4 linked regions of the Homo sapiens genome follow. The protein of the gene in region 1 purifies or fractionates together with the protein of each later gene. This does not show direct contact. Each region holds a gene or a part of one and is shown in the gene's direction. Other genes may lie near its edges.

Region 1 (3,500 bases):
TCAAGTGATCCATCTACCTTGGCCTCCCAGAGTCCTAGGATTACTGGTGTGAGCCACCGCACCCAGCCAAGAAATGTATAAAAATGAAGTGTATATGTTAATGGAATTCTTTACTTTTCAGATTTCTATATTAATTTTAACATTTGTATGTCTATTTTATGTACCTTATCTTTAAACAAAGCCTCAGAGAAAGTCATCCCCCATTGACCATTCTCAGTGATCCCACACCCCCAAACTCCTCTTCCCCAAATAATCTAAGTCCCCAGTGTTCAGCCTATGACTTGCTCAGATCCTTATAGATCTGTTTATTTTCTTTTATGAAGACAATACCACCTCATGTCCCAAGTTGTTGTTATTCTCTCCTTAATAATCCAGTTTACCAAAATAGAGATAAATAATGTGTAAAGAATTTAGGATATAGTAGGCACTCGGGGTTACTGCAAGATAGTTTCCCTCCCACTCCTTTTATTTGCATACCTCTCTCTCTCTTTCAGGAGATTAGCAGAGGCATTTCATATCAGTGAGGATTCTGATCCTTTCAATATACGTTCTTCAGGGTCAAAATTCAGTGATAGTTTGAAAGAAGATGCCAGGTATGTAACTTGTTACCTGCTTTCTTAATTGTGGCTTGTCAGGGTGTTTGGTCTTTTGAGATGTCATAACTAATATGTACTCCTCCTGTGATTAAGCCAGTTCAAGTTTGTTTGTTTATCTATTGTAAGAGATTATGTGCTGTTTAATAAATATCCTTCTCTTGGTTTCTCGAAACTGTCCCCTTAAAGAACTGAACTTGGGGTAGGGTTGAGATAAGAGTTTGGGTGGGGTGGTGGTAAGAGTTTGGGCCTCCCAAGGGCTGGACTAGACTAAATTGGAGGATCTCTGGGCTTCATTCCACTTCTGTCCACCCCAGTCTCACATTCACATGCGTTCTCAGTTGGAGCTATAACAGCTCTTATTTTTCTCCTGGAGTCCCTGGCCTTTCAGTGGCTACTTCTCCTTTCATCTTCTCATTTCTTATATTTTTCTCTTTTGTTCTTCCGTCAGTCATCCTTCTGTTTTCTGACAATTCCTGATCTCTGCAGTTTTACTGCCAGCATTGTCTATTGTCTACGCTTTACAGGGAGAGGATGGGTGAAAGGGGTTCTCAGAAGGGCAGGGACAGACAAAATTAACTGGTGATTTCTCATTTCAGGAAGGACTTAAAGTTTGTCAGTGACGTTGAGAAGGAAATGGAAACCCTCGTGGAGGCCGTGAATAAGGTTGAAGTCGAAACATCCCACTGGACATTTCTCTAAGGCCAGCTTGATGAAAAAAAAAAAGCAATCAAGTCCTGGAAACACTTTCAACCTAGAGTAGTTGTAGGAAAAAGTCACAACTTCTTTGAGGATCCTTATCTTTCTCAAAACACAGCCATTATAACATCTGTGGAAGCCTGTCCTGGTTCAGGACAGTTGACTGCAGAAAAGATCTACAGTCGGCTGGGCACAGTGTCTCATGCCTGTAATGCCAGCACTTTGGGAGGCCAAGGCAGGCAGATCACTTGAGGTCAGGAGTTCTAGATCAGCTTGGCCAACATGACGAAACCCTGTCTCTACTAAAAATATAAAAATTAGCTGGGTGTGGTGGCGGGCACCTGTTATTCCAGCTACTTGCAAGGCTTAGGCAGGAGAATTCCTTGAACCCGGGAGGCAGAGGTTGCTGTGAGCTGAGATTCTGCCACTGCACTCCAGCCTGGGCAACAAGAGTGAAACTCTGTCTCAAAAAGAAAGAAAGAAAGAAAGAAAGCTCTGCAGTCAGCTGTAAGTAAATGCCAGGCACGGTGGCTCACACCTGTAATCCCAGCGCTTTGGGAGGCTGAGGCAGCAGGCGGATCACTTGAGTCCAGGAGTTCACGACCAGCCTGGGCAACGTGGCAAAACCCTGTCTCTACAAAAAATAAAAAATTAGCCAGGTGTGGTGGTGCACACCCATAATCCCAGCTACTCAGGGGGCTGAGGCAGGAGGATTGCTTAAGCCCAGGAGGTCAAGCCTGCAGTAAGCTGAGGTTGAGTCACTGTACTCCAGCTTGGATCTCCAGCTTGAGATCCTGTCTCAATAAAAAAGAAAGAAAGAAAAAGAAAATAAAGATGCTGGCCAAGTGCCTAAGAATGGATGAAGAAACTCTGGGTGAGGGGGCTCAATAGTGATAGTTGAGTGACTGTGTGGGACACTTAGGAAGACACTCTAGCCCCTCAGATCTTTGAAGGGCTATTGTATGCTAGGAAAGCCCACTGTTCTTTATAATTCCAAAGGCAGGAATGTCCCCTTTGGGAAGGATGAAAGTTGTATGACTACAGCTGGAGAGCAGTGGGATAGACTCCTTCAGAAGAGGGAGACCCCTGTCCTGGAGGCGGCCAGGGATGTCACGGAGGTAGCTTTAAGTGGAAAAGTCTTGAGTTTAGTCAGAAGCCCCCAGCGCTGCATTGGCTTCCTCCCCCTTCCATCAGGGGGGACGGTGAGTAAGGACAAGATGGTTGCTTTAGCCCCTGTATCTAATGCTGGTGGTTTTCCTTCCCAGTCTCCTTACCCTCTTCCCATTCCCCTCCTTTCCTCCCTTCTGTTACCACTTCCCAGCAGAATATTAACATGAAGGAGAAAATGGAATGCATTATTCCTCTCCTAATTAAGAAACCCCAACAGATGTGTTTCTCTGCTTGTGTGTCTGTATCTGAATACTCACGATTTTTAAAGTAGAACATACTTTTAAAGGAAATAATATTTTCTTGTTTTGTAAGTCTTTAGTCATTTTTGGGGAATATCACCCACTCCCCAGTTATGGAACCCATCAGGAAGAACCATTATGCTGTCTACCTAAGTCGCAGTTCACTTACCCTTTGTCCCTAACCCTGTCCAGCTGCGACTGTTGTGGCTCACAGAGTAGGTGAAAGAAGTGCATCAGTGCCCATCTTCCCAAACCCCTCCAGGCTTGCTTGGCAGTTAGTAAAATGCTCTATGCTGTGGGCCTCTAAAATCACCTCTTATTGATCCCTGCAATTCTTGTGTGGTAAGATTAGTTGTAAGCATTTTGTTTTCAGAATGATATGATCAATCAGTCATCTTTTCCCTCAATACAGGGAAAGAATAGTAAGAAAAGCCACAGCTTCCCTCCCATGAACAGAGACCACCGCCGGATCATCCATGACTTGGCCCAAGTTTATGGCCTGGAGAGCGTGAGCTATGACAGTGAACCGAAGCGCAATGTGGTGGTCACTGCCATCAGGTAGGTCAATCCCGCCGTCAGAGGAAGAACTCCTAAGCAGGGCAAACTGGACCCAAGAAGCAGGGTCTGTCAATACTTGTCTTTCTTACTACCACTCTCCCTCTTGGAAAAGTAGAAGGAAAATCTGCTTCTCTGGCACTTCCCAGATAATCTAAAGGCCTGAGCCAAAGAGCAAAACCTATGCCTCGACCCACAGGGCAGATGCACTCAAAATGCACAAGTGTCACATCTGCCTACAGTC
Region 2 (3,500 bases), on another chromosome or scaffold:
AATTTGAGTGTGGAAAAAGGGGAGTATAGAATTCAAGTAAAGTTTCCAGAAAATAGCTAATGATTGTGTTCAGTTTTAAACAACAAAAAGGGTTATTCCAGAAGAAAAAGAAAGAAAATACTTATCAGGGATCAGACAGTAGGTATGCAGAGGTAGAAGACAGCATGGATCATTCGGGAAACGATAAATGCTTGAGACCTTCCAGATTGCACATGGTGAGGAATATGAGAGCCCTGATATGAGAAATAGTTTAAAGGATATAAAACAGAAAAATGGCAAGACTAGAATAGTACATCAGGTAGATTAGGGGTTACAAAGAACCTATCTGAATAAGGTTCTGAATAAGATTCAAACTGGAGGCAGACTGACTAATAAGTTAAACAAATGCTCAAAGTGAAAGTCAATAAATTTAGCAAGAATGAATATGGGAGAGTGAAGTTGAGGATGGAAAATAGTCTACCACAAAACCAAGATTTCTAGTTTGAGTTCTCATGTTAATTGTGGCATTGTGAATGAAGTAGTGGTCCACAGTGGAACAATGATGATGAAGATCCTGTGAAAGTGTTTCTGAAACATTCAAGTAGAGATAACAATTACGTACCTATGACAGGAACGCTGGAAATACTGAGATTAAATTATACATTTGAGAATCATCAGACTAACATTTTAGTTCAAACCATAAGAGTACATGGAATTTTCTGCAGAGAATGTATAAAATGAAAATAGAAAAGGTCTGAGAAGAGAACCTAAGCTAAAATTATACTTTACTAGAAGAATAAAATGATCCTGGGAATAATTTTAGCTATGGTCAGAAAATACAAAGTGGATAAATATCAAGAGAACAGAAGGGAGGGCTGGCAAAGGAAGAGTTTCAAAAACAAAAAAGTCAACAAAATGGTCAATGGTGAGATAAAGTTTAAAACCATTAAGTTAGATTTTAAAGGGGTAATTAGAGACTTTTTTAAGAGCAGTTTTAATGGAATAATAGTAATAAAAATAAATTATAAGTTGAGGAATAAATAGATGATGAGACGTCAAAATGAGCAAATTTAAAATATTCATTTAAGAATCTATAAAAAGAAATACAGATCTACAGCTAGAGAGGAGGTTAAGGTTATTCCCACCATCAATTATTTCACTACATGTTATTTTCCATAATTCTGCTCTTTATCATTAATAACTTAGATTTGAAGAAAATGGATGCCAAATTTATATTACAACCTTGTTTTTGTTGTTGTTATTCAAGCTATGGGGTTAAGCTTGGAAAATGAATACACTTCCCAAACCAATAATTGCACATATTTAAGAGAGCAATGCTTACGTGATGCAAATGGATGTAAACATGCTTGGAGAGTAATGGAAGATGCCTGCAATGATTCAGGTAAACAAGTTGCTAAAAATACACTCAAATGATTTATTTTTACTAAGATAAAAACAGGATTTGATATTTTGTCATTATCCTAAGAACTAAGTTTTTTTCTATGTATCTTATTTAATCTTGACCCCCATCGATTCACTTTTAATCATGTATTAGCAAATTTAATTACAAAAGGATTTTCTTAATTACTAAAGAGCTTTAATTACTGAGGGCAGCATTATTCAAGATTTCAGATTATTTTCTTACCTCTCTCACCATGTATAATGCTACAATTTTATGCATTCTTCTGAGAACCATGGCACTATTTTTTTTCAAATAAAAGGTTATTTTGATTACATATGTCAATGATAAAATAGAAAAAATAAGATTTGTTATAATAATTGTTGTGCATTTGTCCATGCACAATGTACAATGTATATTCTTGAAACATATATGCGGTATTTCCAATTCTATGTCAAGAACAAGTAAAGCTATAGTTTTGTTTTTAACTTGGCCTACCTTCCAAACATTTGTGGGGAGGTTCAAGAGTTGAGAATGTGAAGATTGGAGAGTGACTGGTATTTTCTTTCTTTTTTCTTTTTTTTTTTATTTTGAGACTGAATCTTGGTCTGTCGCCAGGCTGGAGTGTAGCTGCGTGATCTCGGCTCACTGCAACCTCCGCCTCCCGGGTTCAAACGATTCTTTCTCCTGCCTCAGCCTCCAGAGTAGCTGGGACTACAGGCGCATGCCACCATGCCCAGCTAATTTTTGTATTTTTAGTAGAGACGGGATTTCACCACGTTGGCCAGGATGGTCTCAATTTCTTGGCCTCGTGATCTGCCTGCCTCGGCCTCCCAAAGTGCTGGGATTGCAGGCGTGCACCACCGTGCCTGGCCTATATTTCCTTAAAAAGAAAAAATATATATATTTTGAATATTCAAGTAGCTAAATAAGCATTGAATGAGAACATTATAGTAAGACTCCTTTCATTAAAAGTAAATAGAATAGTATAAACTACAAATAGAATAAAGTAAATAGAATAAGTAAATAGAATAAACTGTCTATGTGGTAGAACATAGTCAATTTATACAGTAGAACATTGTTCTACAGCATAATCTATACAGATTACAGTATAATCTATCTACAGTATAATCTAAAAATAATCTATTTATTTTGATGATTAAACTTCTTGCTACATTTTATAAGGCAATTTAAAATATGTTGTTAAAATATTATATTTAGGTGTCACAAATTGTACCTTATTTAATTTCAGTATACAAATAGTCTTTTGCAGTAAATTGCAATAATATTTGCATAATTATTTTATGTATGAAGCTGAAATATGCGTATTCTCAAATGTACAAATGAAATAAACTAAGGTAGTTTTATTCAGAATAATAAATAAAAGAAAATGTTCAGGTAGAGGATTACATATTTTTAAATTAATGTAGAAAATGAAATATTGGTAATTATGAGACTTATTCAATAATATTTATTGAGTGCTATGTGCCAGGACCACATAATTTTTAATGATAAATTTAGAGCTACCTGCACATATCTTTCTATAGTCTGAGAATGATATGAAAATAAAAGATCAGATTATGACAAAATAGCTAATAAAATAGATAAGCTGACAAAATGCTAAGATTAGAGAGCATTCTGGTCACCTCCTGTAAGAGTAGCCTTATTTTTACTGAAAAGCAAGAAATGATATTCTAAGTAGGAAAAAGCTATTTTGAAATGCAGAAAGTTTTAATATAGAAAGTACATTATGGAAAATATTCAATGAAAATACAGGTTTTTCATAAAATGTCACTTATATGGATATCTTGCAGCAACCCCAGATAATCTTACCATATTAATTAATTATTCAGGTTAATATGTTAAAAGTACTTTGGGGAGGAAGAATCCAAAATTATAATCAGATTAATATCTATAGTGTTATGTGTTTGATTGTGAGATCCAGGTGACCCCTGCAAGATGAGGAATTCATCATACTGTAACCTGAGTATCCAGTACTTAGTGGAAAGCAATTTCCAATTTAAAGAGTGTCTTTGCACTGATGACTTCTATTGTACTGTGAACAAACTGCTTGGAAAAAAATGTATCAATAAATCAGGTAATATTTTGTTTTAAGAAATGT
Region 3 (3,500 bases), on another chromosome or scaffold:
TAATCCAGTGTTCCCGCAACCAAAAAATGAGTGTCGGGGCCAGGCATGGTGGTTCAGCCTGTAATCCCAGCACTTTGGGAGGCTGAGGTGGGTAGATCACTGGAGATAAAGAGTTTGAGACCAGCCTGCTACACATAGTGAAACCCCGTCCCTACTAAAAATACAACAATTAGCCGGGCATGGTGGTTCAGGCCTGTAATCCCAGCTACTCGGGAGGCTGAGGCAGGAGAATTACTTGAACCCGGGAGGTGGAGGCTGCAGTGAGCCAAGATTATGCCATCGCGCTCCAGCCTGAGGGATAGAGCAAGACTCTGTCTCAAAAACAAACAAAAAAAGAGTGTCAGACTTGTACATTCTCTCATTGCCTCGTGCCTGATCTGAAGTCTGCACGAAGACCCGCCTTCACGGCTTAGCTGGTAAGCATGTGCTTTGTTTCCTGTCTAGTGTGTACTGTAAGCACGGTCACCTGTGTCCCATCGACACCGGCCTCATCGAGAAGAATATCGAACTCTTCTTTTCTGGTTCAGCAAAACCAATCTATGATGATGACCCATCTCTTGAAGGTAAGGAATAGTCCGGGATTATGTTTGGGGCACACTTTAAAAACAGCCAGGCAGGGTGGCTCACATCTGTAATCCTAGCACTTTGGGGGTCTGAGGCCAGAGGATCACTTGAGCCCGGGAGTTTGAGACGAGCCTGGACAACATAGCAAGAGCCTGCCTCTATTAAAAAAAAATATATAGCATATATATATAGTATACATATATACTTATATATATGTATAAATAAAAAACATACTTATGAAGCAATAGTCAGCTGGAGTTGCTGCTGCCTCTTAAAGTTAGGGTGTGAGACTTTGTGCCAGGAGCAGCTGTAGGCCAAGTCATTGTGATGACTGAGGAGCACCCGACCTGGCTGATGGGATGTCTGCTGAGTGGGCGCTTAGAGCGCCTCCTGGGTTTGGGATGTGAGTCAGAGCCTTTAGTCCATTTCCTTTTTCTGCTCTAGGTGGTGTTAATGGCAAAAATCTTGGCCCCATAAATGAATGGTGGATCACTGGCTTTGATGGAGGTGAAAAGGCCCTCATCGGCTTCAGCACCTGTAAGTGTGTGGCCCATCATAGGCTGGCCGGGGTCTGAAAGGGGCCTTCATGTTCTCCTTCCTGGGGGCTGACGGGGCTCTGGTGGGAATTCTCAGCAGGCTTGCAGAAGGCCATGTGACTGGGAACCTTAGCAGGTTCAGTTGGGGTAGCCTCTTGTGTTAGTTATGACTGGCTCTGGAACTGACTCTCCAGTTGTAAGAGCAGGTCTTGGCCGGATATGGTGGCTCACACCTGTAATCCCAGCACTTTGGGAGGCCGAGTTGGGGGGATCATTTGAGGCCAGGAATTCGAGACCAGCCTAGCCTGGCCAACATGGTGAAACCCCCTCTCTACCAAAAATACAAAAATTAGCCACGCATGGTGGTGCATACCTGTAATCCCAGCTACTTGGGAGGCTATGGCAGGAGAATCACGTGAACCCAGCAGACAGAGGTTGCAGTGAGCCGAGATCACGCCACTGCCCTCCAGCCTGGGTGACGGAGCAAGACTCTGTCCTCCCCTGAAAAAAAAAAAAGAGCAGGTCTTATTCTTGCAACCCAAACCCAGACTGAATTCCAAACACCAGAGATGAGCTCAATGAAGGCCTACTCAGCTAGTCTTCGCTCTCTGGCTGGCTCAGACAGGCTTCTTCAGAACAAGCCAGCTATGATGTGTTGTGCCCTATGTTTCTGACATTTGGGTACGGGATGACTTTTAGACTGTTGGGTGAGTTTGGTAGACTCCTCCATGCCCTGTGGCCACTGTAGGCGCCATCAGATTCCAGCCCCTTTTCCACACCTCCTCTGTTCACCCCAGCATTTGCCGAATACATTCTGATGGATCCCAGTCCCGAGTATGCGCCCATATTTGGGCTGATGCAGGAGAAGATCTACATCAGCAAGATTGTGGTGGAGTTCCTGCAGAGCAATTCCGACTCGACCTATGAGGACCTGATCAACAAGATCGAGGTAAGAGATCGAGGGTCCTCAGCATCCGGGATTCCCACTGGAAACTTGCCTTCAGAACCAGCAGACACTGTTCTTCAGTTGGATTTAGGCCAGTTTGGCTTAAGCATGAGAGAAACCTGTTCTCTTTCAAGACCACGGTTCCTCCTTCTGGCCTCAACTTGAACCGCTTCACAGAGGACTCCCTCCTGCGACACGCGCAGTTTGTGGTGGAGCAGGTGGAGAGTTATGACGAGGCCGGGGACAGTGATGAGCAGCCCATCTTCCTGACACCCTGCATGCGGGACCTGATCAAGCTGGCTGGGGTCACGCTGGGACAGAGGTAAGGATGCGGCAGGGACCAGAGTGAAGACTGGAGACCGGGGAGGGTAGAGCATGGCCCACATCCTCTGTCCCAGTCCTCTGAGATGCTGGAACCTCTCCCGTAGGCGAGCCCAGGCGAGGCGGCAGACCATCAGGCATTCTACCAGGGAGAAGGACAGGGGACCCACGAAAGCCACCACCACCAAGCTGGTCTACCAGATCTTCGATACTTTCTTCGCAGAGCAAATTGAAAAGGATGACAGAGAAGACAAGGAGAACGCCTTTAAGCGCCGGCGATGTGGCGTCTGTGAGGTAACCTCACCTGTGGGTGCTCCCGCTCCCCTAAGGTGGCCCAGCCTCTGGCCTGATCTGAGGACTGCTCCATCTTTCTCTCTGTGGCTTGAGACTCTGGCTGCTCAAATGTGACCCCTGAGACAGAAATTAGTTAGTGGTCTGGGAGGACCCTGCATACTTCATTGAACGTCAATAGGACAGATGTCCACAGAGGCATGCTTGGGTGCTTTGCTGATAATGCCACTGTCCTTAATTGAAGAGCCTGGCTTCTGGGTGGCTCTGCTGTGCCTGCATCTCACAGTCTGAAGGCCCCTGTTGGACTGCTAAAGGGGTATTCACATCTAAGTGGGCACTTTGTCCAGCTTAGATTTGAGGCCCTCAGGAGGCGTCCCTTTCTGTGAGTTTTTAAAATATATGTTTACTTCACTCAGGAGGAACTAACTTCCTAGTCCTATGACCCAAAGACCAGGACTATTTTGATACCTATTACCTGACTTTCTTTTGGATAAAGACTGGCTTCAGGGCTTTGCTTTTGATCCCCGCTGGCATCTCTTAACAGGAGCCTGCATGTCCTCACCATTGTTATTTTGGTTTTATTTTATTTTTCTTGGTTAACACACGTGTGTCCAATGTTTTATAACTTCTAAAATCTTTTTTTTTTTTTTTTAATTTTTTTGAGACAGTCTCTCTCTGTCACCCAGGCTAGAGTGCAGTGGCACCATCTCAGCTCACCGTAACCTCCGCCTCCCGGGTTCAATCAGTTCTCCCACCTCAGCCTCCCGAGTGGCTGGGATTATAGGCACCCGCCACCATACCCGGCTAATTTTTTTTGTATTTTTAGTAGAGATGGGGTTTCA
Region 4 (4,066 bases), on another chromosome or scaffold:
GATGCCATGTTATTTATTTTACCGAGTCCACCCAAGCCTCCTATATCCAGCGTGTGGATAGTACGAGGTTGACAATTAGTGCATTAGTTACCTGTTTACCACGACGTACTTGCAATAACAAAAGCTATTAGATGGGCTTTCCTAGTATCAAATATTCCTGCATGAGTTGGCTTTGCTTCTGATTGAAAATACTTTTGCCCATCCTTTGCATCTCCCCTATATTCTGGTTCCCTAATACAGAGTCTCGTAGGGGTAGAGAGATACCATTATGTTAGTGTCAGATACACCTGGCTATTTAATAGTTTTGTAAACTTGGGCACATTACTTAAGCTTTCTGTTTTTCCAGTCGTAAAAAACCGAAAGACTGATAGCGATTTTGAAGTTGTCGAAAGACTTTAATGTGTTTGAAAATACCTAACAACAAAGCCTGGCCCACAGCTGGTATTTCAATAATGTTAATTTCCTTGCTTCCCTCTTGAGGTCCTTAAGATTCATAGGTTCTCCGGACTCCTTGAAAGTTTTGTGTAGATGCATGAGGTGTATTTTTCTTGGAAATAAAGTCCACAATTTAACAGATTATCTTGGGGCCAGCGATTTCCCCGAAAATAAATTGTAGATTCTCCTTCCTGCAATGCTAAGGGGTGAATCTCTTTTGCGGGAGACTGGATTCTTTCGGTGTGTGTTTTGCTCTCTGGGTACTCTTTCTGTAGTCGGCTAACAGAGGATGACCAAGCCCCTCGCGGGGGCGGGGGCGGGTCACTCCCGGACAGGGCCCCCATGAAGTTTCCCTGGGGACTGTGTGACTCCCTAGGGGTCGGGTTACCTCCCAGATGGGGGTGGGGTATCACTTGCAGCTGGAAGGCAGGTTCATTTTAAGGTCTCGCGGGCTTCGGAGGCCCCTCCCTCACTGAGAAACCGGCTTTTGTCGTTCTTCTGAAGCCAGAGCTAGTCTTTCCAGGTGTTAGTCGAAACCTCGTGGTGCGACCCTGGTCGTCCCAAACCCCCTAGGCCTTAATCCTGGGGCGGTGGGGGCGGGGAGGCCGTGAGCACGGCTTCCGCTCCTCCAATCCGCCAGAGGGCGCAGCGGCCGGCCTCTCCCTTCCCGGGGTTCTTCGCGCCGGGCCCCTTCCGCGTGGGTGAGTGAATGTGAGAGTCAGCGCTCGCGCCGCGCGCGCCGCCCGCCTCCGCTGTTCGGCGCTCTGCTTTAGGCGGTGGGGGGCGGGCGCGCGCGTAAAAGCATAGAGACGGGCATTGAGCTCTTGGGCTAGAGCGTCGCCGAGTCGGAGCCGGAGCCTGAGCCGCGCGCTGTGTCTCCGCTGCGTCCGCCGAGGCCCCCGAGTGTCAGGGACAAAAGCCTCCGCCTGCTCCCGCAGACGGGGCTCATCTGCCGCCGCCGCCGCGCTGAGGAGAGTTCGCCGCCGTCGCCGCCCGTGAGGATCTGAGAGCCATGTCGGCCAGCAGCCTCTTGGAGCAGGTACAGGCCCGGCCCGCATGCCTCGGCCATTGTGTGAGGCGAGAAGGAGCCCGACTAGGCCCGGGCCCGCCGCTCCTGGGCAGGCCGAGCCGAGCCGAGGCGTCGTCTCTTGCGGGCCAGGTTTCGGGCCTCTCAGGCCGGCCGCGCCCGGCGCCTCTCCCTCAGCCTGTTCTTCCCGCTTCTCCTCGGGCCTCGGAGCCCACGGGCCGGGCCGCGCCGCGTTCCCTTCTCTCGGCGGGCCTCGTTTTCCTTCCTTGTTTCCTTCCCCTTCCTTAAAGCCCTGGGTTCCTCGCGTCGCCGGTGGCGCGTCTGCCGCGTTTTCTCCCCTGCCCCACGGGCCTGGCGCTTTCCCCCGCCTCCCATTTTCAGCCTCTTCCTCACTACCATTCCTGACGCCTCCCCTCGGGCCTGCTCCTTTATTCTCCCTTCGGGCCCTGCCTTAATTTGTTCTTCCTTTTCCATTTCTCCTTTGGACAACTTGCTGCTCGGCGACGTTTCCTTCCCCTGCAGAGACCAAAAGGTCAAGGAAACAAAGGTAAGTCCCGCTCCGCCGGTGGCCCTGAGCCGGGAGGGGGACGCGGGGCGGTGGGGGCGGGGTCTCCGGGAAGCGCCCCGGGCGGAGGACCTTTCGGAAGCCGCTTAGTTCGCAGGTGCCGCACACTTAAGTATTTTGACCCTTTCGGTGTGTTCTTGCAGCTGGCGAACAGCTTTTTCGCTAACAAGGAGTAATTCATTAAGGGTGGGGGTGGATTGGGTTTTGAAACGCTCCAGGTCCTTAGTTTCCTGTAGGTCTTAGAAGGCCTTTGTTTTTCATCCTCGTGGATCACTCTCTGGAAGTACTCTCATGTGATGGGGGAGGGGAAGCGGGAGGGAATGGAAATCCAGAGGAGCCAATAAAATGACCTTTTTAGATCAACTTGCTCTGGGTGGAGGGGGACATTTTCACTGGCGACTGTCGCTTCAGCATTCACTGTCATCTCTTACCCTTTTGAAGTTCAATCTTACGTGCTTTGTTAACTAGTAAGGTTTTTCTCTGGTTAGCATATATGAACTAATTTGAAAGGAAGATTGTAGGATTGGGACACTCCTAATTGAATTTTTTTTTCTTTAGTACAAAATGGATCTGTACATCAAAAGGATGGATTAAACGATGATGATTTTGAACCTTACTTGAGTCCACAGGCAAGGCCCGTGAGTAGTTAACTATTTACATATCTAATCGAAGGGTGTGGTATATTCTTTCTCCGCCTTCTACCAATAAATCCCATTTTCTGAGGATTCATTTTTTTTTCTTTTTTCTGTTTTCTGTTTTTTTGAGACTGAGTCTCGCTCTGACGCCCAGGCTGGGGTGTAGTGGCGCAATTTCGGCTCGCTCCAACTTCCGCCTCTCGGGTTCAAGCGAATCTCCTGTCTCAGCCTCCCGAGTAGGTGGGATTACACGTGTGCACCACCGCACACAGCTAGTTTTTCTATTTTTTTAGTAGAGACGGGGTTTCATGTTGGCCGGGCTGGTCTTGAACTCCTCAGGTGATTCACCCGCCTTGGCCTCCCAAAGTGCTGGGATTACAGGCGTGAGCCACCACGCCTAGCCGAGGATTCACTTTCTTAATACCTGTATTTTTTCTCTGCCCTCTATCAGGAAATCCCATGTTCTGAGGGTTCACCTCCTTAATACCTATTAATGTATTATAAAACAGTTAACTGCAAATGTCCTAGGCCGTTGAGATTCCCATCTCTGTAATATCAGCAACCATACTGTATTGAGAACGTAATACTGATAACACTCTACTGGCAGTAACATGTGCATGAATAATTGTCTTCTTCCTTACCAAGAATGTAGCAGTGCAGAATTTAGGGATTCTTACAGTGTTAAATATTCTGAATTTTCACCCCAGAGAACTTTGGATTCATATGATAGGGAAAGTTCTAATGTAAAATCACCTGAAGGCGGGAAGATCTCTTGAGCCCAGAAGTTTGAAGCTGCAGTGAGCTATCTACGATCATACCTGTGAAAAGCCACTGCGCTCCAGCCTTGGTGACAGAACAAGATCTGGTCTCTAAAAAATAGTCACCTGAACTTCATTCAGTGCTGCAGGACTGGCTGTCTTTCTTTTCTCTAGTTTATGGGTTCTTAGATTATCAGAACTATTTCGGAGTTAGGAAATTTTTTTTTTTTTTTTTTTGAGACGTAGTGTCAACTCTTGTCACCCAGGCTGGAGTGCAGTGGTGCAATCTCGGCTCACTGCAACCTCTGCCTACCAGGTGATTTTGCCCGCCTCAGCCTCCCAAGTAGCTGGGACCACCATGCCCGGCTAATTTTTTTAATTTTTTTGTAGAGATGGGGGTTTCACTATGTTGCCCAATCTGGTCTTGAATTCCTGAGCTCAAGAGGTCCGCCCTCCTCGACCTCTCAGAAGTGTTGGGATTACAGGTGTGAGCCACCATGCCCGGCTGAGTCAGGAAATTTTTGAGTTGAGCTGCACCTACATCTGTGGAGAATACTTTATTTCTCACCGAAGGGAGGTGTAGGATTTATAAAATGGAGTGAAAGTTAAAATACTGTTTAGCACAAATGAAGATCAATAACGTTGG

Evidence for each region. The genes of interacting proteins can lie anywhere in the genome.
Region 2: the proteins of NFX1 (region 1) and GFRAL purify together in Homo sapiens (affinity purification with mass spectrometry, with the first as the bait; one large-scale study listed by BioGRID). This does not show direct contact.
Region 3: the proteins of NFX1 (region 1) and DNMT1 purify together in Homo sapiens (affinity purification with mass spectrometry, with the first as the bait; one large-scale study listed by BioGRID). This does not show direct contact.
Region 4: the proteins of NFX1 (region 1) and YTHDF2 purify together in Homo sapiens (affinity purification with mass spectrometry, with the first as the bait; one large-scale study listed by BioGRID). This does not show direct contact.

What each region holds. Positions count from the first base shown.
Region 1 is NC_000009.12:33,363,516-33,367,015, forward strand, and holds part of NFX1 (transcriptional repressor NF-X1), read left to right. Parts: intron 1-494; coding exon 495-593; intron 594-1,192; coding exon 1,193-1,259; intron 1,260-3,113; coding exon 3,114-3,259; intron 3,260-3,500. UniProt on the Homo sapiens protein: Binds to the X-box motif of MHC class II genes and represses their expression. May play an important role in regulating the duration of an inflammatory response by limiting the period in which MHC class II molecules are induced by interferon-gamma.
Region 2 is NC_000006.12:55,330,469-55,333,968, forward strand, and holds part of GFRAL (GDNF family receptor alpha-like precursor), read left to right. Parts: intron 1-1,246; coding exon 1,247-1,381; intron 1,382-3,317; coding exon 3,318-3,476; intron 3,477-3,500. UniProt on the Homo sapiens protein: Brainstem-restricted receptor for GDF15 hormone, which triggers an aversive response, characterized by nausea, vomiting, and/or loss of appetite in response to various stresses.
Region 3 is NC_000019.10:10,153,454-10,156,953, reverse strand, and holds part of DNMT1 (DNA (cytosine-5)-methyltransferase 1), read left to right. Parts: intron 1-444; coding exon 445-563; intron 564-1,008; coding exon 1,009-1,101; intron 1,102-1,897; coding exon 1,898-2,049; intron 2,050-2,180; coding exon 2,181-2,368; intron 2,369-2,474; coding exon 2,475-2,661; intron 2,662-3,500. UniProt on the Homo sapiens protein: Methylates CpG residues. Preferentially methylates hemimethylated DNA. Associates with DNA replication sites in S phase maintaining the methylation pattern in the newly synthesized strand, that is essential for epigenetic inheritance.
Region 4 is NC_000001.11:28,735,674-28,739,739, forward strand, and holds the start of YTHDF2 (YTH domain-containing family protein 2), read left to right. Parts: upstream 1-1,266; 5' UTR 1,267-1,447; coding exon 1,448-1,474; intron 1,475-1,984; coding exon 1,985-2,009; intron 2,010-2,585; coding exon 2,586-2,665; intron 2,666-4,066. UniProt on the Homo sapiens protein: Specifically recognizes and binds N6-methyladenosine (m6A)-containing RNAs, and regulates their stability. M6A is a modification present at internal sites of mRNAs and some non-coding RNAs and plays a role in mRNA stability and processing.